Homo sapiens: one gene and its partners. The protein of the gene in region 2 purifies or fractionates together with the protein of the main gene of each other region. This does not show direct contact. Each region holds a gene or a part of one and is shown on either strand. Other genes may lie near its edges.

Region 1 (3,908 bases), on a different chromosome or scaffold from region 2:
TTTTAACAGCAGTTAGAACCAGAAGGAAAAGGCTGTTATACAGAAAAACATACAAATATGTAGGTAGAAGTGAAAAACTGAAGAATGTGGAGTGTTTACTGTCCCGTTACTCACACAGACGTGCTGGATTCAACACCCACGCTGAATCTCCATTTATTCCACGGAGGTGGAGTTCACCATGGTTCGACTGCCCACCAGATCCCCAAATGTCAAAGTGAAACAAAACTCAGTGAATTCTAGATGACTGTTTTACTTCCCCTAAAGAAGTTATCTGTAAATAAGAAAAATCAACTGATAGGGGGAAAAAAAAAAGATCTGTCATTTGTCAACAGATGGACGAAGACAAGCTATTGACTCAAAGAGAACCTGCCGCGAGTCTTAGTCTTTGGAAGGTCAGACAGCTGCAGTGTTCGGTCACATGGAGATGGTGTCTTCATGTCTCAGAGGCCGCATTCTGTAGGCCAGACGTGTGCTCACCAACCTATACAAGGGTCAGGGCAGTCCCGCAGGTAAGTTTCGAATTGACCTTTGGTAACATCTATCAAGGTTGTGTATACGGTCAGCTGAAAGAAAAGTTATTTTTACTTTAAGGACGTTTTCAATTCAGAGATGTTCTGATATATATTAGCATTTCTATACTTGTAGAATTTGCTTTAGAAGTTATTTAATATTAAATAATATAACTTAATATATGCAAAGCATGTTATATAATGTATATATTTATATTAATATAGTATAATCATATAAAATTAGCTAAAGTCTCACCAAATAACTAAAGCAAACAACTTCAACAGGATCACTGTTTCAGGTAATGAATATAAACAGGCTCAGGAAAGAATCTCCAGCTCCTTATAGGAGCTTATTCCTGACAGCACATTGCTCCACCCCCAATGCTTTAAGACTGCCTTAACCCTCCTTGACGCACAGCTGGCAGTCCTGGGAGACCTGCCGGTGTCCTATGGAGTAAAAACCGTGGAGCTTTGGCTATCCCTATCCTTAAAGCATTTCCAATACAGTGGGGGAAACTGCAGGCACCCAGATCACAAGGCACACACCCAAACACAAGTCACGAGATTGTGACTTGCTCAAAGATGGTATAGGCAAAACGCAAGTATGGCAGGGCCCGTGAACTGAAGGCAGGCTTCCTGTGAGAGCCAGGGTGACCTGGATGCTAAAGGCCGGAGGGATTTGTCCTGGCAGGGTAAAGGCGGCATGTTTACTTTAGGGAGAGCTGTGGAGAAGGACCAAGAAAAGAAGGAACAAATGGGAAAATTAGGGGGGCATATTCAGAACGTTCAGGGAATGATTGTTAGCGAGTGGTGGGATGATAGGAAACTTTTTGCATTTTTTTAAAACTACAGTGTAGGGAAAAGATAAACAGATGTAGTAAAGTTTAAGGGAAACCCGAACCCACCAAGACACAGAGCTCTGTCTGAAAATGGACTGCAGACTTTGTTTTGTTGACATTTAGGTGTTAGTTATATAGTGTGAGATTTTTAATAGATACCAATAAGAGTAAAATGCTAGCCTTAATTCAAATGCTATGTAAATAAAGCTATAAACAATATTCTGACCTATCAAGCCTCAGTGATCAATTTCTTTCTTGTATTCCAAAATACAGTTTTAGCCACACAAAAACATTTTTTAATAAAAAATCAGTCCTAAGCTGAACACACCTTTTGTGCTCAAACTGATCAAAGATAACAGAGAAAGATAAAACATAGGGCCAAATTCTTTCCCTAAAAGGCAAATATACATATAACATTTAAAATACCTTGTTGAGGACAGGTTTTGTTGACAGGACATCATACATGGTTTCAAATGAGATATTCTAAAACACAAGAAAATAGTTTTGTTCAGTAAGTTAAATACAGAAGCCAACAGCCTTATCTACACACATGGGCCACCAGAAACCAAGACATTCTTTAATCAACCTCCCCTCCATCCCCGCAGTGGAGTTTCTGTGGGAGTCACTGTTAGAAACACAGGTAACAGTTTTAATGGATTACTTTCCTCTCTCTCCTTCCCCTTTTTTAAATTCTTGCCTGTTTGTTATTCAACTTCAGAGTGGTATCCAGCATTAGAACCAGAAAAGGAAAGTACAGCACAATTTTGCTCTTTAAGTTAAGAAAACGAAACAAAAAAATCAGTGGAGAGTGGCTAGAGATACTATGAAAAATAGGACGTTTATAAATTACTTGAAGGCCAAAGAAAAATGCCAGAACCAAGGGAATCTTTAATGGCAACAGTTTCTTTCTATAGATGACCCTGCAAAGGTACCTCTTGGCTGGTGCGGTTCAGACACATCTTTGCAGGCGTTCTGCGATCATCAAGGAAGAAGGGATGTTTCCAACGGTCATAATTTGTTTGTACCACATACCATCTACCCTGCTTAGCATCGAGTCTAGATACAAAAGGAGAGATTCCCTCTTAGGCTACATGCCTTAAAACTCAAAGTATATCAGTGTATGCTTTTGTTTCTACTTCTTTTGCTTTAACAAACCTACTTACTCATATACATCCAATGATTCCTTTCTGTCTCGTGTAATCACACAACCTTCCCCAGACTGGTTGCCTCCCAGGATAAAGTAGGCTGGGGCCAATATCTTGGTCTTGGTCAATAAATTCTTGGCTTCTTCATAACTATATAGAAACATTTAAAAAGAAAAATGAAACTTTTTTTTAATTTTAGTAAATAACTTCATTTATTTTTAAATTTTACTTTAAGTTCTGGGACACATGTGCTGAACGTGCAGGTTTGTTACATAGGTACACACGTGCCATGGTGGTTTGCTGCACCCATCAACCCATCATCTAAGTTTCAAGCCCTACATGCATTAGGTATTTGTCCTAATGCTCTCCCTCCCCTTTCACCCCACCCCCTGACAGGCCCTGGTGCGTGATGTTCCCCTCCCTGTGTTCACGTGTTCTCTTTGTTCAGCTCTCACTTATGAGTGAGAACATGCAGTGTTCGGTTTTCTGTTCCTGTGTTAGTTTGCTGAGGATGATGGTGGGAAACATTTTTAGATGACTTAGAACGGAAATGTTTAGCTCTGTAGAAACTAAAGAAAAACAAGTATCTAAGGAATGTGTTATTTATTTATTTCTATTTTTAGAGATGGGCTCTCACTCTGTTGCCCAGGCTGGTCTCGAACTCCTTGGCACAAGCGATACTCTTGCCTTCGCCTCCCAAAGTACTGGGATTACAGGCATGAGCCACCATGGCCAGCCACAATGTGTTTTCTAAAAAAGGATGGTGAGCAATGCCTCTGGGAAAAGCAATCCCTGACCCTGTATGGTGAACACTGAGATGGGAAGCGGGAATCTTAGGAAGCCCCTCTAATCTGAAGGAGAAACAAAGTGGCCTCAAGAGATCATCTTCCACCCTTACTGTCCATGCCTTTCACTCAACAACAGAACAAAGGGAAATAATATTACAGTATGTAGGACTTAGAGAACAGAAAGTAAACCTTCTTGAAAATTAGGACTATTAAAAATTGAAGTGGGTTATCAAAGAACACTACTAACATTAAATCTTATTCCCTGGGAAGTATTAAAAATAGGATTGATGCCCATTTATTTGGACGCAGTGCTGGCTGAATGAAGGAAAGGCAGTTTTGCTATTGTAAGATTTCTATACCAAGGCAAGATATAACTTACAGGTTAATATGTAGTACATTTTGTATTTATTTATTTTGTTTTTTTAAGACAGAGTCTCACTCTATCACTCAGGGTGAAGTGCAGTGGACTGATCCCAGCTCACTGCAGTCTCGACCTCCTTGGGCTCAGGTGATCCTCCCACCTCAGCCTCCTGAGTAGCTGGGACTACAGGCAGGCACGTGTCACCATGCCTGGCTAATTTTTGTATTTTTTATAGAGACGGGGTTTCGCCATGTTGCTCAGACTGG
Region 2 (3,500 bases):
ACCCTTTCTGTTAAAGGGATATTAAAATCCTGCTGGCATCCCCTCCCCTCAAAGAGAACACACCTGGGCCCAGCCAAGAGAGTTGCCTATAGTCGCAGGCTCATCCACAGACTACAGTGCAGCTGTCGAGCTCGTGCATGCTCAGGAGGGAGTTCAGAGCCTCAGCCCCAGCCTGCCATTGCCTCCAGCCTGATGCAGGGTCTGAGGGAGCTGCTGGAAAGCTTCCCATCCCAATGACCATGTGCAACCCCAAACCTTGCCTAGGCAGAGTCCCAGGCCTCTTGAGAGACTCAGGAGCTGGGCAAGACCTCCCAACATGGGTATGGACGTGCCCAGACAGGGCTGGATAAGGCCCCTGGCCAACAGCAGGTTAGTAAAGGGGCACTAGGAGCTGGTGCAGGACCCAGCAAGCCTGCCTGTGGGACAGGTTCCCTTTACAGGGTGAGCTCTTCCACTGCTAACGTCCCCTGAGTTAAGAAATCCCAAATAGGAACTGCAGGGGCTGATTCACCAAAGCACCACCAGGGCTAGAGAGCACGAGCACAGAGCAGGCCTCCAGCAAATGCTTCTGGAAAAAGAAAAGGGAGGGAGGGAGGTACGTTGGAGGTAGTGGTTTCAAACCCTGCTTCACATTAGAAGCAGCTGAGGAGCTCGGAAATGCTGATGCCTAGGTTGTCACCACCCCCATGGATTCTAATTCCATGGGTCCAGGACAAGGCTGTCCAGGTAATTACCGTGTGTAACCAGGAAGAGAAGCGCTGCTCTAGTAGGACTAGCTGTGAGTGGTTCTCAAGCAGCTGCACATGTTAGAATCCCCTGGGATTCAAACGTTTCAAATGATCCTGGAGCTCTAGCCCTATCTCAAACCAACTACACCAGAATCTCTGGGGGTGCAGTCCAGGCCTCAGCATGTTTCGAAGCCCCCACGTGGTTCCCCACATGCAAGCAGTCCTGTGTGCTGACACTTGCTGGGGTGTCCTCCGTGACTGTCAGAGTCAAGGGTCTAATGCTGACTGGTTGCTACGGGTGCAGCCCAGCCCATGGGATTCTGCCCAAGCAGGGCTAACTTCTGCCAGGCCACCCCACATGCTCCATGACCCCAGAATTAGGCTCAATGGAGGCTGTCTTAGCTGAAGGAGAGTTTGCCTCCCTGTCCTGAATTTTGGTAACTTCTGCAACTGAAGGCCAATCATTCCCTAAGAGTCTGGGGAGGTCAGAGAGTACGTTGTGGTGAATCAGGCACAGGCTCTTTCTTGAGACCTCACAGTCTACAGGGGGAGGAAGAGATGGACTGATGGGTGTAGACACTTGCAACGCAGAGGTGACACCATGACTGAGGCCATCAGCACAGGGGGCTGCTGGACCTAATCAACCTGGGGGCGGGGGCATCAGGGACGTCCTCCTGGGGGATGTGACATCATAAGTGACTTCATGGAAGAACATTAGGATGAGGGGAAGAAGGCTCTGAGCAGAGGAAATGGCATCAGCCCTGGAAAGAACGTGGAGAGCACACAGGCTGTTCTAGAGGCATCACAGGCCTTGGCATGGCTGGCCCAAGGGGTGTGAGTGATGGGGAAGCCTGGGGGCCTGGGCAGGGGGCAAAGAACAGATTACACTTGGACTTGATCTCAAGGACAACAGGGAGCCAGTGACAGTTCTAAGCAGGGAAGCGACAAGGTGAGAATTATGTTTTGGAGTGATGTCTCTGGGGGCAACAGGAGGCATGTTTGCAGGGGGATGGCTGAAGGCAAGGGGGCCAGTGGGAAGGCTGATGTAGTAGGGCGTGTCCCAGGTGCTGAGGCCAGACGGGGCAGTGGGGTGGAGTCAATGGCCTAAGATGGCATAAGAGGTGAGCACAGCACTGCGAGACAAGAGGAGGAAGGGCCGGCTCAGGCCGGCGAGTTCCACTGGTGAGCTTTCTGGATTCTGGATGATGCAGTTGTCAATGGTTGCTGGGGTGGGGCGGGAGCTGGAGAGTCCTGGTTTGGTTCCAGGGCGAGATTTCCTACAGGCAGGTTTCAGTTCTGCGAGGCATCCTGCTGGACCCAGCCTCCCCGGCCTCCCTTTCTGGTGGATTTGTGAAATTCAGGGGCCTACGTGCCTGATCCCTGCAACAAAGCTCCCGCCATGCCGGGTGAGCCTAAGAGGGTCGGGGAGAGAAACTCCCACCTCCCCACAAAGCACCTCTGAACATGAAAGCCGGACTCCACATCAATATTTATTGACTCGGTTTATATAACCTCCATCCTCAGAGACGTTCTAAAGCCCTTGGTTTCACTTCTTGAATTTAACAACCTGAGCCTCGCGATAAACAGCTCGCTAGTTCTCCAGCGCTACATTGGAGGGTTTCATTACAGGCACAGTCCTCACCACGGAATCACCCTCTCTGCACCCGTCTCCCCTCATCCACTCACTCAGCCACTCATCGTCCGCTCACTGAGAGTCTACTAAAGGGCCTACTGTGAGCCGGATGCTGTGCACAGCCATTGCCTCAAGGAGTTCACAGGAGGGAGAGAGTGAGACATTCAATGAGCAATTCACCAAAGAAATAACCACAAACCAAGCACTGAATGTGGTCTGAACAGAGCACACGAGGGGGGCCCTTTGACGGGGTGGTCCTGGAAGCGAGAGGGGACTGGGCTCCAGGCAACCCCGGGCCAGAGCATTGCAGCATTCTAGGACGCCCAGAGATCCTACAAGGAAGAGGAGCTCGAGGTTCCAGAGGGCCTGGAAGAAGCAGTCTGGCTGTGACGAAGGGGACAAGGAGAGAACGCTGAGGTGAGGCTGGAAGGAAAGCAGGGTCCAGCCCCCTAGGGCTTTGGAGGCCAATATCACCCTTGTCCTGCCCAAGACAGTAGCTCCCCACAGAGGCAGCCCTGGTGCTGTCGGGGTAACATCTTTGCTCAGCCTGCACCCCCTCAACCACCCTCCAGTCTCATGTACCTCTCCCCACTGGTTCACACTGTCCCCTCCAGCCCCAGCACCCTGACAGCTCCTGCAGTTGCTTCTCTGGGCCTTGGGCCAGGCCTGGAGCCCCTGTGTGCCTTTCCTCAGCAAGGAGAACATCTCCTCAGCATTCAGCTCCAGCCCTGAACCCCTAATCCATCCCTGCTGTGTAGCTGGGGCCTGCTCCAGTTCCTCCTCCATAGGAGCACACTGCATCCCCATCACCCCTCTCGCCTACCAGCCACCTTCTGCTGGGAAGGCCTCGGGCAGCAAGCGAGTCGCACCCTTTTCTCTGTGCCCAGTAGTGACTCATACAAAGTGGGGATCAGAAACATTTCCTGACCTGCAGTGTTGAGTTGAATTAAGACCAGAGAGACAGACACACAGACACTCATACACACACACACACACACACAGACACACACAAAGAGACACACTCACACACACAGTTACACACACACACAGAGACACACACACTGAGAGAAAGGTACACACACAGAGACACAGACACACACACAGACACAGAGACACACACAGAGACAAACACACACAAA
Region 3 (4,773 bases), on a different chromosome or scaffold from region 2:
TCACTCCTTTACATATCAAAAACAGTAACATGAAGTTACATATTCAATTAACCTTAAGATTGCAACTTAAGAGTAAGATCAAGGACAACCATACATACTTGGTCCAGAAGTATCAGAATATCATCTGAAAGATTCCACAGTTCTTGACCTGTGAAGCAAAGGAAATGAATTTCATTAATTCCTCAGTAGATCTGATTACAGCATAAACATTGCGTGCTTATAACAATAATTATGCAGTGGCCAAAAATGAAAGTTTTAAGTACAAGTATATATTTGACTATATATATACTGTATCTCCTGTGGCACTGTGGTATCTCAAAGAGGTAGAACCTCTTTAACCACTTTTTTACTTAAGCAGGCTGGCTCCTTCTACCATTTTCTCAATGCAGGCTTTCCCCAGTGTCTGCCCCTGGCCCTCTTCTTTCAACACTTTCCCTGCCAATTTCATCTAAAATCATGGCTTCAGATATCCCCAGCTCTCATCTCTAAAGGTCCTTCCCCATTTCCAACTGTCACCATGATAGCTCAACCTAGATGACTTACAGCACCTCAAAACCAGCATTCTAAAGCTTCATCTCTCTTACTTAACCTACAAGATTTCATCACTTGCCTATGGACTCTGCCTCTGTAAGAAGTTCTACAGCTGACTCCACTTCTACATTCCTACTGCACTGCCCCTTCTTACATCCTACTTGGTCTCTTTCTTTCCGTTCTCTCCCCTTTCCATTCTCTCCCCTTTCCATTCCATTTAGCACACTGCTGCCAGTGATTCATTCTGTTTAGCCTTCATCATGTCACTCCCCTGCTGAAAAAGCTCTAGTGAATATCCATTGCCTTTTATGTATAAAATCCTTGGCCTGGCCTGCATATGACTTCCATGTGACTCCACAGTCGTATTTTTTACCAGTTGCTTTCACATATCCGTGCTCCTTCCAGCCTTCTCATGATTGATCATGTTGTAACCCCAGCTTGGAGTGAATACCACTCTCCCCATTTCCATACTTTCAAATGCTTTCCCTGTCTTTTCAAAGCTTTCCCTTTCCTCACCCGGATCTAGAAGTAGTCTCTTAGACTTGGTAACATTTTTCACTTTTTATCTTGAACTACAGTTATACAATATGTTTTGCATTTGTCTTTTTGGAGAACAAGATACAAAACGGAGGTTTTTTTAATATTAAAATAGCAAACACAGTATTGGTATTGGGAGTATTAGAAGCAAAGGGCCAATGAATATCTGCTAAATTGACAAGTTAATGAAAAAATAATTAGTACATTAGTACTCTGTCACCCAGGCTGGAGTGCAGTGGTGCAATCTTGACTCACCGCAACTTCCGCTCCTGGGTTCAAGCGATTCTCCTGCCTTAGCCTCCCAAGAAGCTGTGATTACAGGTGCCCACCACCACACTCAGCTAATTTTTGTATTTTTTTGGTAGAGACGGGGTTTCACCATGTTGGCCAGGCTGGTCTCGAATTCCTCACCTCAAGTTATCTGCCCTCCTTGGCCTCCCAAAATGCTGGGATTACAGGCATGAGCCACCACCACACCCAGCCATTAGATTTGTTTATTAACATCATTGTTAAAAATGACAGAAAAATGCAATCATTGATTCATCCTTATAGAATCTAATACTTATTCCTATTTTCAAGTAGATAATAAATGATAAGAAGCTAAGTATTTAAGGACCCTAAGTATTTAATGTGCCTTAAGTATTCAAGTATTTATTGTTTTTTAATCAATTAGATCATTAATTATAAAATAGCTACTATAAACTACAAAAATACTAGGACTGTTGAATTAGGAAATCATATCTATTATCTGCTAATTGCTGGAGACTTTTAAAAATGAATCACTGTGTATTTCAGAAATGAGTCTTTTCATAACATCTTTCTACCATTTATAAACGAGTCTAAAATTCTTTTTCAGAAAGCAGATGATAGAGAAAAACGACAAGAAGCCCACCGGTTTCATTTTGATGCTATGTGACTTGCCTTTAATATTACATAATGGAATGGCTGTTCACTTGATTAGTTGAAACACAAATTCTGGCTTGAAAAAATAGGGGAGATTAAATATTATTTATAAATGATGTATCCCATGGTAATTATTGGAAAGTATTCAAATAAATATGGTTTGAATATGTCACAAGGTCTTTTTTTTTAAAGCACTTTGTATATAAAAATTTGGGTTCTCTATTCTGTAGTGCTGTACATTTTTGTTCCTTTGTGGAATGTGTTGCATGTACTCCAGTGTTTGTGTATTTATAATCTTATTTGCATCATGATGATGGAAAAAGTTGTGTAAATAAAAATAATTAAATGAGCAGGAATTTTTGTGTCCACTTGACTTGGTCTTGCTTCTTATTCTAATGATGCAAATTATACTTTTGTGAATATATCACGGAGTCATTAGGCATTCAGCTTCATCACAGCAGGTCAGGGGTCTCACTGATGGCATACAATATAGTGATCGGGTACTCTGACTTGGTAGCACAGTAAGACAGACTTGCCTTAAACTCCTAATTCAACCACTTACAAAGTCATTGTTTGAACTTGGCTCTTGTTTAACCTCTGTAAACCTCAGTTTTCTTGTTTATTCAGTGGGGCTAATACTTGAGTTACTGTAAACATTAAATGGGATGATGTATGTGAAGTGCTTAGCTTGGTGCCTAGCACAGAGTAAGTGGTCAATATGTGGTAGTTGTCATTATTAATATTTTAGATGATCTTATTAGACTTATACATCTAATTATAGAAATACATAGACTTGATAGAATTTTATTTTCAGGCATGAAGAAATATTCTTTGGAAAAGCTAAATTTTTGGTGATTGACATAAAGATTTACTTGCTCATATTAACTAAAAATTATAGTACTCTCCAAGAATTAATGTGCCCTAAAAATTTTCCTCCAAAAACTTATCCTTATCATGTGATAATGAAGAACATTTGATTTCTTGAAAGGAAACTGCTGTAGGCAGCATCTGGGAATGCAAATCTTCAATCACATTTCTATTCTCAAACACTTGGAGAAGTCTATAATTTACATTCAGACTTCAATGCAAATTTTGTATTGTGAACTTCACATTTCCAAAAAGTTACTTTAAAAAGACTTTAAGACTGAAAAAAAAAAGTTTATCAATGCTAATAATTTTCTAGTATGCAAATGGACATGTGATGCCTATAAAACACAAAAATTTCTCTGAAAACAATTTTGTTCTTATTTTTTTCTTTATAGTTCACTGAGATTGGCATGTGTTTTTACTTTGTATCTAAGCATGTTAACATGTCTTCTTAATAAATATTCCTTATTGAAACAAAGTATTTCAGTGAGTTTTTAAATAATTATTTTAGAGCATGAAGAGACCTTAGAGCTTATGAAAGCATTTATCTGGACTGGGAGACCAGGGTAAGGTGACTTGCCCACTGCCTCTCTGTGGGTCACGGGCAAGATAGGATTCTCCTGACTGTAATACTCAGTTAAATTCACTAGTTATCAGCCCACAGCACTGTCCCAGGCACTACGTGACACTTTCTCAAAGATAATTGGGATCATTATTGATATAGCCTGAGTCTTCAAACTCATGTGAATCAGAGTTTACAAGACAAATAAAATGTTAATGACAATTAAAACTACAATCAGTGACATTAATACTGCTTCTGTATTTCCAAATGCAACTTTAATATCATTTATTAAGGGACAGCAGGTAAAAAATGTATCACAACATTGAGAATCACTAACAAAAACCTTTGTTTTGATTTTGAATATTGCAGTGGAAAGAGAGCAAGGCTTTGAAGTCAGACCAGTCTGGATTCAGGGCCCAGCTCCCCGATTTCATGACTCTGAATCAGTCACTTCTTTGAACTTTGGTTTCTTCATCTGTAAAACAAAGGTAATGAGTGATACCTACCTTCAAGGACTGCTCTGAGTCTGAAATGGCAGTTTGTACACAGAAGATGCTTGATAAGTGCTGTTTTTCTTCCTTCCCATTTCCCATGACAGTGACAAACTAACAGTTATTTTCTGAGATTTCTTTCCCACTGACTATATGTTAGTGTTATCCATCCTTGGGGAGCTAGGAAGAGTAATTAAGAATTCATAATCATTTTGAAGATACTGTAAATATGTTAATACACCATTTATTTGAACTAGCCCTTTACATTTCCCCATCCTTGCAAGTAGCTAGAATACCTCATAAAAAGAAACAAAAACTTAAATCATGTCCCGCAGACCTCAATGGTATACCTGGGATTGATCTAGGATACTTAAGGGCTTACTCCTCAGGATAAAGGTGAATTAAAACCAGCCCTTGTGATTACCTGCACCTGACCAGTTATTTTAAAAGGCTAATTAAATAGACAGTAGATTAGGCAGTGCTTTTGATCCACAACCGTACAAGGGAAAGGAAGGAAACAAAATTAGGCAGAAAAATTGAACTGTGATGCATTCTCAATGAAATGCCTCATACAACCCTACATCGAGTTCTGAGATAGGATGACCTTTCCTATCTCCTAACCTGTCCCAAGTTAGAATATGAAGGCTGGGCCTTTACATTCCCACATTCATCAGTTATAGGGCACAGGCTGCCCCAAAGGCCTCTAACAAGAAAAGGAAAACTGGTACAAATAACCAGTATCAAAAATGAAAAGGGTATAACTACAGATAATCTATTTATTAAAACTAGGAAGATTTTGAGAATAACTTTATACCAATGTGCCGAGACCAGCTCAGTCGGGGAGATCCTAACCCAGCGGCACTAGAGGAATTAAAGACACAC
Region 4 (3,500 bases), on a different chromosome or scaffold from region 2:
TAGGAAGCAGAGGTTGCAGTGAGCCAAGATCCTGGCCACTGCACTCTAGCCTGGGTGACAGATGAGACTCTGCCTCAAAAAAAAAAAAAGTCTTCTTTCCCATATATCCCCTAGAAACTGATGTCAACAGGTCTTTTCAGTCTTAGAGAGTCAGAAAGAGACACCGTTCTCAAGCCAGTCAACATATATGTCACCACGGTAGTTAGCATCACAGAAAGCTGAGAACAACAATTCTTGTGCTGCAAACCTGTAATTTTTATGTGTGCCAACCTCTACCACATTAAAACCACCACATCTTCTCTCTTTCTATTAGTAGAAAGGCCTTGTTTTTCCAGCTAAACAAATAAGGTGTTTAAAATGATATATCACAGGGCTCAGTCTTCAAATGGTAAGAATTAAATTTACCTCAGAGGGAACATACTGCTCCACAGCTGTAGCAACAGTTGCACAACAAATCCAAAGCAATACCATCACCGAGAGGACAAGAGTTGTAGTTAAAATCCACCCAGAGTTACTGGAAAAAAAAAATCAACAATTAGTTATATTAAAATTTTATAAGAAACAGGAAATTCTTAATTAGTCAACCTTATGTACTTAGCTCAACAGTACAATTAAAACTTTGTTGGTTATCTTTGAAACTATTAAAAAACATACTTACAGAAGGAAATATTATACTAATAGCTATTACATTAGGTTGGCATAAAGTCTTTTTCCTCCACTTCTAATGTTTCTGTAACATGGCTATATCACTTTTGTAATAATAATAAAATCAGATATACTTGACTTTCTGCTAAATATATAAGGCAAGTGAAAGTGTCCTGTAAATTGTACACTGTTGTACAAATGTCATATATTATTTTGCAAGTTATTACGATACTTGCTTTAAGAAAACCAATATACCAAAAAGTTAAGGTATAGAATAGGTAAATTTAAAATGATCATTTGTTTTATAAAAGAATTCACACCAGGCTTCCAGAAGTCAGTTTCCCTAGAATACTTTACATATTCAATTTGCCATAATTTACTTATACTTCAATTTAAAAAAGCACAGCTATTATAAGGCATTCTGTAACCATTACAGCATATCTCAGTAAAGAGATAGTTATATTTTCCTTATAATTAAAATATCTTAAGACAGAAGGCCAGTTATGAGAATCAGCAATTAGAGATTTTTTATTTATTTTTATTTATTTTGAATTTTTATAGAGACAAGCTCTCACTATATTGCCCAGGCTGGCCTTGAACTCATGGGCGCAAGCCATTCTCCCACCTGGAGTTTTTTTCATAATTGACCTATTAAGATTCAAAGAATAGGAAAAAGTCAAGCCATTTTTAAATAATTAAAAGTCTAACTCTGACAAACTGTGTAATACAGATACTCCCTAATTTTCACATCTCTGCTCATCCAACACTGCCTAGTAAGAGATCTATACTTACCACCCTAATCACTCACTTGATAGTTTGCCAAGACTTGAACATGCAGTAAGCACAGTCATTGTTTGTCTGCCAGCAAAAGAGGTGGACTTTGGAGAATGTATTGTATCTAAAAGCAGGGAACTCCCATATGATTCTTTAAGTATCCAATTTAGAAAGATAATAGAGTAAAATATGTTTTTAATGAACAAATACCCACTTTCCTCTCCATGTTCCAGCCCTAAGTAACCTGAGTACTAAGGAATTTACCACAAAATGAGGATATATTTGATATCTAGATTCCAGTAGCAACTACCTAAGCCAGAAAACTGGGGCTCATCCCTTCAATCTCCACAACAAAACAATGACTAGATCCTACAGATTTTCAACTATCTCCATTATCTCCTGTTCTTATCTACTGCCCTAATCCAGACCTCATAATTTCTTCCCTGATTTACCAAAGTTCTCCAACCTGGTCCTCTAATCTATCCTTCACATAGAAGCCTCTTCTTGACACTTATGTTCCTGATTCTCTCTATTCCTGTTTTCCCAGTTCAGTCAAATTTCTGACTCTCCTTATCCTCCATATATAGTAATGTACCCTATACACATTGAGCAGGAGGCCAGTATATCTGAAAAAAAAATTTTAAGTAAATCTTCTGCTATAACTAGCAAAAATTTCTACTCATCACTTGAGATATTTCTATCTCACCTGTCAATCCTCCCCTTGAAACCTCCAGTAGACTTAAATACAGTCCTTATATGCTGTGTATGAGACATGTGTAGGACTGTGTGTGTGTATAGCAATCATTATTGTCCATGTCTGTTTAGATCTGAGAACTCCTGACATCTTTACTAGGTCTCAACTCCCTAGCACAGTGCCTGGCTCCTCAAAAAGAAATGCAAGTGAAGAAAGAGTGACCTCAATTTCCATTCTGGAGACAAGGGTGTCTCTTTAACAGCTACGACCAGATTCCAATAACTGGCTGAGTGATTCTGTATGTAATCATGGAAAAATCATGACACTTTAGGAAGTAAATAGTTACAGCAGAATAGGATGAGCAGAAGATGTACAGTTAGAAAAATTAGGTTTGAATGCTAACATAGTGACTGTATAACCTTGCGAGTAGTCAATTCACCTCTCTAAATCACCACCTACTTATCACAGGGTATTGTTCTAAAAGTCAAATGGGATCACTGAAGGGGAAAAAGCATTTAAAAAAAGAACACTTAAAAAAATAATAAAATTTGAGACAGTCTCGCTTTGTCACTCAGGCAGTGCAATGGCACGATCACAGCTCACTGCAGTCTCAACCTCCTGGGTTCAAGTGATTCTCCCACCTCAGCCTCTTGACAACTGGGACTACAGGTGTGTGCCACCATGTCCAGCTAATTTTTTTATTTTTTGTAGAGATGGATGGGGTCTCACTATGTTACCCAAGCTGATCTTGAACTTCTGGGCTCAAGTGATCCTCCCACCTTGGCCTTCCAAAGTGCTGGGATTACATGCATGAGCCACCGCACTCGGCCAAAAGAATAATTTTTATTCAAATGTAGGATCCTATTATAATTTATGTTTGGGCACAGAAACTTCTAAGAAATACATTTCTATAAATACATTATAAAGTTAGTTGCTTCACAAAATTACTTTTAAAGTGTTAGATGTAAAAAAACAACATAACATATAATGACAAAATGTTAAAGGTCAATAAATCACCAATAATATGCCAGGTAGTACAGTACTGAGAACTGTAACTTAAGATTAAATAATTATTTAGGTTTCACAGAACTATCAAACTGCAACATACATCCTAAATACTGGAAAGAAAAACTGCCCTTTTTTGGACAAGCTCAAAACCAGGTTTAGAAATGAACGAAGGATAAAATTTAAAGTTTAATCCTTGTTTTCTCACATAGTCTTTAAACATTTTGCTTAGTAAAAAGTATTAATTTGTAAGGTCCACATAATTGTAATGATATATGATAAAACCTCTCAAGAAACTGTTTCTATAAGAAATTACAGGGAGCATGTGATTTGGACTACTGCAGTTTTATACTTGAGATAGAACAGTCCACTAGAATGAACA
Region 5 (5,100 bases), on a different chromosome or scaffold from region 2:
TAGACATGAGAAATAGCTTTTAGGATAGACTAAATTCATTTAGTAACAATCAGGTTTCAAACTGCACTTGTGCCTGACTTTCAAATTAGAACATTTTTCGTTATTATTACGATTGCTTTTTACCTGGATAAAGATTTCAAGGCCACTGTTTTTTTTGTTTTTTTGTTTTTTTTGAGACAGGGTCTCACTCTGTTGCCCAGACTGGAATGCAGTGGTACAATCTTGGCGCACTGCAACCTCTGCCTCCCAGGCTCAAGCGATTCTCTTGCCTCAGCCTCCCGAGTAGCTGGGATTACAGGCCTGCGCCACTATCACCCGGCTAATTTTTGTATTTTTAGTAGAGATGGGGTTTCACCATGTTGGCTGGGCTGGTCTCAAACTCCTGACCTCAAATGATCCACCTGTCTCGGCCTCCAAAAGTGTTGGGAATACAGGCGTGAGCCACCACGCCCGGCCTCAATGCCACATGTTTAACATTTTTTGCCATGTTGTCCAGGCTGGTCTCAAATTCCTGGACTCATGCCATCCTCCTGCCTTGGCCTCCCAAAGTGCTGGGATTACAGGTGTGAGCTACCACACCCGGCCAGCTTTGGAGATTTTAAAGTTCTCGATAGTAAGGGCTAGGTTTAATTCCTTGAAAGCCCCTAAGACCTAAATCAGTGTTTTATATGGACTGATTTTTCAATGTTCACTTTAAGAGACTTTGTATGACAGTATTCTTTACATAATCACTTTTGGTAACTTCTAGTAAATTTCCTCTGACATAGGTTCTGGAAAGAAAAACAATTCACTGGGAAGCAAATGACTATTAACGATACACCAAGCACATTGGAATAAAAAAAAATCTACAACTTAATGGATTTATTCTAGCAGGAATGTGTTTGAATGAATTATACCACATATTCTGATTTCTCTACAAATAAGGAAACTCCAAATTGTTGACTGCTGAGTTTAAAAATCATTCCTTCCTTAACCATTTAATCCTTGCTATGAGTATTAGTGGGGGAAAAAAATCTCAGCTAGTCATAATGAAAACAGCATGACTTAAGGAAACGAGATGGAGACTCCAAAGCATTTCTGGATGACAAAAAAAAACACAAAAATACCAACAAAACCAACCCATCAACCAAACCATCAGGCTGACGACTGAGTGGATCAAAAATTATGCAATCATACAAATGAAGATTTAACATATAGAACTCTGTAGAAGAAGGGTAGGAAGGGGCTTTTTAGGAGAATGAACCAAAGAGAGAGTCTTGAGGGCAGCTAGGTTAGAAAACACAGATCCTGAAACAGAGGAGGGCAAGGCTGAAGAACAGGGAGGAAACCACAGCACTTTCAGCTGTATTCATACGGAATACTTTCCTAATTGTGGGAAGACACCACAAGGTTGAAAACATAAAAAAAAAAATTCAGCCATAGGAAAGTATTGTCCAATGCTATTTTCAGTTAATATGAAATTATTTCAGGAACTGCAATATAATACACAATCTTTAAAATTCAAAGTAGAGGAAATATTGCGTGTAGTATCTACTGGCTCTCTAGTTACCTCTTAAAGGAATAAAAACAAAGATAGAGAAGGTAATACAGCAAAGAATTACACAAAATAATTTACTGTTAGTTTATTGCATAACCACGTCACACCAATCTGCCATTCTTTGGGTGGGAGGAGTTATTTCTTTTGCTAATGTGGATAACAAACAAAAAGTACCTACGATAAAACTTAATTATTGGGAGAAAAACATAGTTTTCCTAAGGGAAAAAGTAAAGTCAAATGGTTTCACCAAGCAAAGTAAAATTCTTAAGCAGTCTAAGAAACACTTAGTAAAATGTATCAGAGGAAGGCTCCAGATCCAACTCAACAAGTAACCACTTCCCCCTGCTATAGCTCATTCTGAAAAGTCAAACTGGGAAACACTGCTATTTTCAGTGTATATCAAGCCATTAGTAAGCAAAACTTAAACTATTCCAAGTGACAAAGCATTGTCATAGCCAAAACCGCAGAAAATAATAGTAGAGCAAAATTAAAAACGTAAAGTAAAATTTTAGACTTTTACTGGATGACACACTCAATACACTTCTATGGTGATGAATTATTCCTAGAGAGAATCTAATTAAAAAAGAGAAGAATATGACTCATTTAATTAATATCATAACACCCTTTTCAGCTCTGGAAGACAGAAAAGTCAAAGCTATACATTTTAATAGGTCCCACATACTCAAGCTGTCACTTGTGTTCTTAAAATATTGTCAAAGGCTATGCCTTGTCCAAAAGAATGTTGTTACCTTATGAATTTGCTGCAGATTTATATATCCTGCTTTAAACATAAAGAGGCAAGAGTCTGAAATGATGTAGAACATAACCTTGGTATAAAGAGTCCCTGGAAGGAGGTCATGTATAATTAGAGATTGCTTCTTTGGCATCCAATTCTGGATTTCTCATGGAATATGGTCTAAAACATTTATTTTAAAAATATATTTTCAATGATCTTTACCTTTATTTCAACCAGTTTAATGCTAAAATATACCTGTTCACTGAAGCAGAACAGTGTCAGGCGCAGTCACGCATGCAGTCTGTACCATGCATCACCTCAATGTGGCAGTTTTGCTTCTGGATAACTTCCTACTCGCATTCAGCTCCTCCCCAGCCAACCATTAGCCCACTCACCCTTACTCATGCCTAGATGTGTAAATGATTAAAAAACAATAAAGCAATGGACTACTGATGCAGAGGGTCAAACTACGGAACCCAGAGGTACCACAGATTTACCAACTCTAAGCCTCCATCTTCTCATCTATAAAACAGAGACACTGGCCGAGCATGGTAGCTCACGTCTGTAATCCCAGCACTTTGGGAGGCCGAGGTGGACGGATCACTTGAGGTCAGGAGTCTGAGACCAGCCTGGCCAATATGGCAAAACCCCGTCTCTACTAGAAATACAACAATTAGCTGGGTGTGGTGGTGCACGCCTGTAGTCCCAGCTACTTGGGAGGCTGAGTCAGGAGAATCCCTTGAACCCAGGAAGCGGAGGTTACAGTGAGCCAAGATTGTGCCACTGCATTCCAGCCTGCGTGACAGAGCGAGACTCCGTCTCAAAAAAAAAAGAGATACTGATATCCTCCTTCATAGGCTCATTATAAGGTTTAAATGAGATAAAAAGTATAGAACCAGGAGATTAGCATGTAGTAGGTGCTCAGTGATGGTACCTGTCCCAAACTTTCTTCCATTCCTCATGGTTGGTACAGCCAGCTTGGAGTCACCTCTGTCCTTTCCTCCTTCTGCTGCTCCCCCTCCATCTATATAATCCAACACTTCTGCTTCTTTGGCATGGCCAAGGCATTGGTGGAAGAAACTGATGATATTTGTCCAAAGTTTTAGATTTATTGCTACCCTGCTAATTGCTATCCTGATAACTACAGGCAAAATTACAATTTTCTGTAAGTTTTTTTTTTTGAGACGGGTCTCACTCTGTTGCCCAGGCTGGAGTGCAGTGGTGTGATTATAGCTCACTTCAGCCTCAAACTTCTGGGCTTTTTTTTTTTTTCCATAGTGATGAGGTGTCACTATGTTGCCCAGGCTGGTCTCAAACTCCTGGGCTCAAACGATCCTCCCACCTCAGCCTCCCAAAGTGCTGGGATTACAAACATGAGCCACCATGCCAGGCCAATTTTTTTTTTTGAGTAATATATAGTCAGCCCTCTATATCTGTTGGTTTCACATCCATGGATTCCACCAACCAAAATATAATATTTTCTATTTTGAAATATTCAAAAATATTTTTAAAAAATTGCATTGTACTGAACATGTACAGACTTTTTTCTTGTCATTATTCCTTAAACAATAACAGTATAACAACCATTTGCACAGCAGTTACATTGTATTAGGTATTATAAGTAAGCTAGAGATGATTTAAAGTATATGAGAGGACGTGCATAGATTATATGCAAATACTATGCTATTTTATATAGGGACTTGAGCATCCAATGACTTTGGTATTTCTGGGGATCCTGGAACCAAGACCTCATGGATATCAAGAGACAACTATCCTTGGTTTCTGAATTTTTTTTTTTGGAGGCAAAAGGCTATTACTCTTAACTTTTTTTCAAAGTGTAGAAATTAATAATTTAGAGAATAGGGTTGTATAGTGTTCCTGTTTAGCAATTACACTCATAAAGTTACTTTATGAATAATGTATCATGGGAAGGGTAGCATATCCATTATTGACTATATATACATTTTTTTAAAATTAAAACTTGTTACTTTAACATTAAATATGCTAACAGTATCTAAGGCAATTCTTTAAGCCAAAGTATTCCTAAAAGGGAGTTTCAGAGTAAACATAGGCTTTGGATCTTATCGCTAACAATTATAGAACATGAACATTAGCTCTCCTGCGTAAAATATTTTAGACAGATATATATATTGAACATAGAAACAGAGACAAATAAAAGCTAGTCATAATTTAGACTTCATCCCTGCTAAGACTGTTTAGCTTATGTTAAACCTCTATTTCTTTGTTTCACCTACCATTCCCGGGCGAGCTTCTTATAAGCCTTTTTAATATCAGCCTGACTGGCTGTTCGGCTGACCCCTAGGACTCTGTATGGGTCAAAATCCAACGCAGACAGAATTTGCAGGATCAGAACCAGAACTATCAAGAACTGCCAGGAAATGCTCAACTTTCTCACTTCCATTTCTCTTCCTTTCCAGAGCTGAAATGATTGAAGAGGCAATGAGTTTCAGTGGCAGAAACCTGGACAGTCTTGCTTTTTAGGTAAAGGTATAAGATATATAGATGAAAAACAAAACCAACAAAAGGTATTTTGCAGGAAAAGTGTCAAGCTGTTGAACTGTATCTTAAAATAAAAATCTCGCTACTGCTTTTGAATATCACAAATGAGAACTATTACAGATGAAAAGATGAGTAATAAGAATAGCAACTCTCCAGAACACTTTGACTAGAAAAGCTTTAGAAATGAATGAAAATGAATGGGATGCAGAAATAATACATAAATGAGAGAAAACCTAAATAGGATAATCAGGACGACTACCTCTCAAATACATGATTTCATTTATTCTGATAAGAATAAATAAAATAA

What was found.
Region 1: the proteins of NSG2 (region 2) and ASAH1 purify together in Homo sapiens (affinity purification with mass spectrometry; one large-scale study listed by BioGRID and IntAct). This does not show direct contact.
Region 3: the proteins of NSG2 (region 2) and ITFG1 purify together in Homo sapiens (affinity purification with mass spectrometry; one large-scale study listed by BioGRID and IntAct). This does not show direct contact.
Region 4: the proteins of NSG2 (region 2) and TMEM59 purify together in Homo sapiens (affinity purification with mass spectrometry; one large-scale study listed by BioGRID and IntAct). This does not show direct contact.
Region 5: the proteins of NSG2 (region 2) and DNAJC16 purify together in Homo sapiens (affinity purification with mass spectrometry; one large-scale study listed by BioGRID and IntAct). This does not show direct contact.

Annotation. Positions count from the first base shown.
Region 1 is NC_000008.11:18,057,061-18,060,968, forward strand, and holds part of ASAH1 (acid ceramidase isoform a preproprotein), read right to left. Parts: intron 2,644-3,908; coding exon 2,512-2,643; intron 2,405-2,511; coding exon 2,281-2,404; intron 1,832-2,280; coding exon 1,775-1,831; intron 564-1,774; coding exon 474-563; 3' UTR 1-473. UniProt on the Homo sapiens protein: Lysosomal ceramidase that hydrolyzes sphingolipid ceramides into sphingosine and free fatty acids at acidic pH.
Region 2 is NC_000005.10:174,097,706-174,101,205, reverse strand, and holds part of NSG2 (neuronal vesicle trafficking-associated protein 2), read right to left. Parts: intron 1-3,500.
Region 3 is NC_000016.10:47,152,930-47,157,702, reverse strand, and holds the end of ITFG1 (T-cell immunomodulatory protein isoform 1 precursor), read left to right. Parts: intron 1-98; exon of another isoform or gene 99-148; intron 149-1,924; coding exon 1,925-1,984; 3' UTR 1,985-3,312; downstream 3,313-4,773. UniProt on the Homo sapiens protein: Modulator of T-cell function. Has a protective effect in graft versus host disease model.
Region 4 is NC_000001.11:54,036,205-54,039,704, forward strand, and holds part of TMEM59 (transmembrane protein 59 isoform 2 precursor), read right to left. Parts: intron 515-3,500; coding exon 406-514; intron 1-405.
Region 5 is NC_000001.11:15,528,701-15,533,800, reverse strand, and holds part of DNAJC16 (dnaJ homolog subfamily C member 16 isoform 1 precursor), read right to left. Parts: intron 4,714-5,100; 5' UTR 4,696-4,713; coding exon 4,529-4,695; intron 1-4,528. UniProt on the Homo sapiens protein: Plays an important role in regulating the size of autophagosomes during the formation process.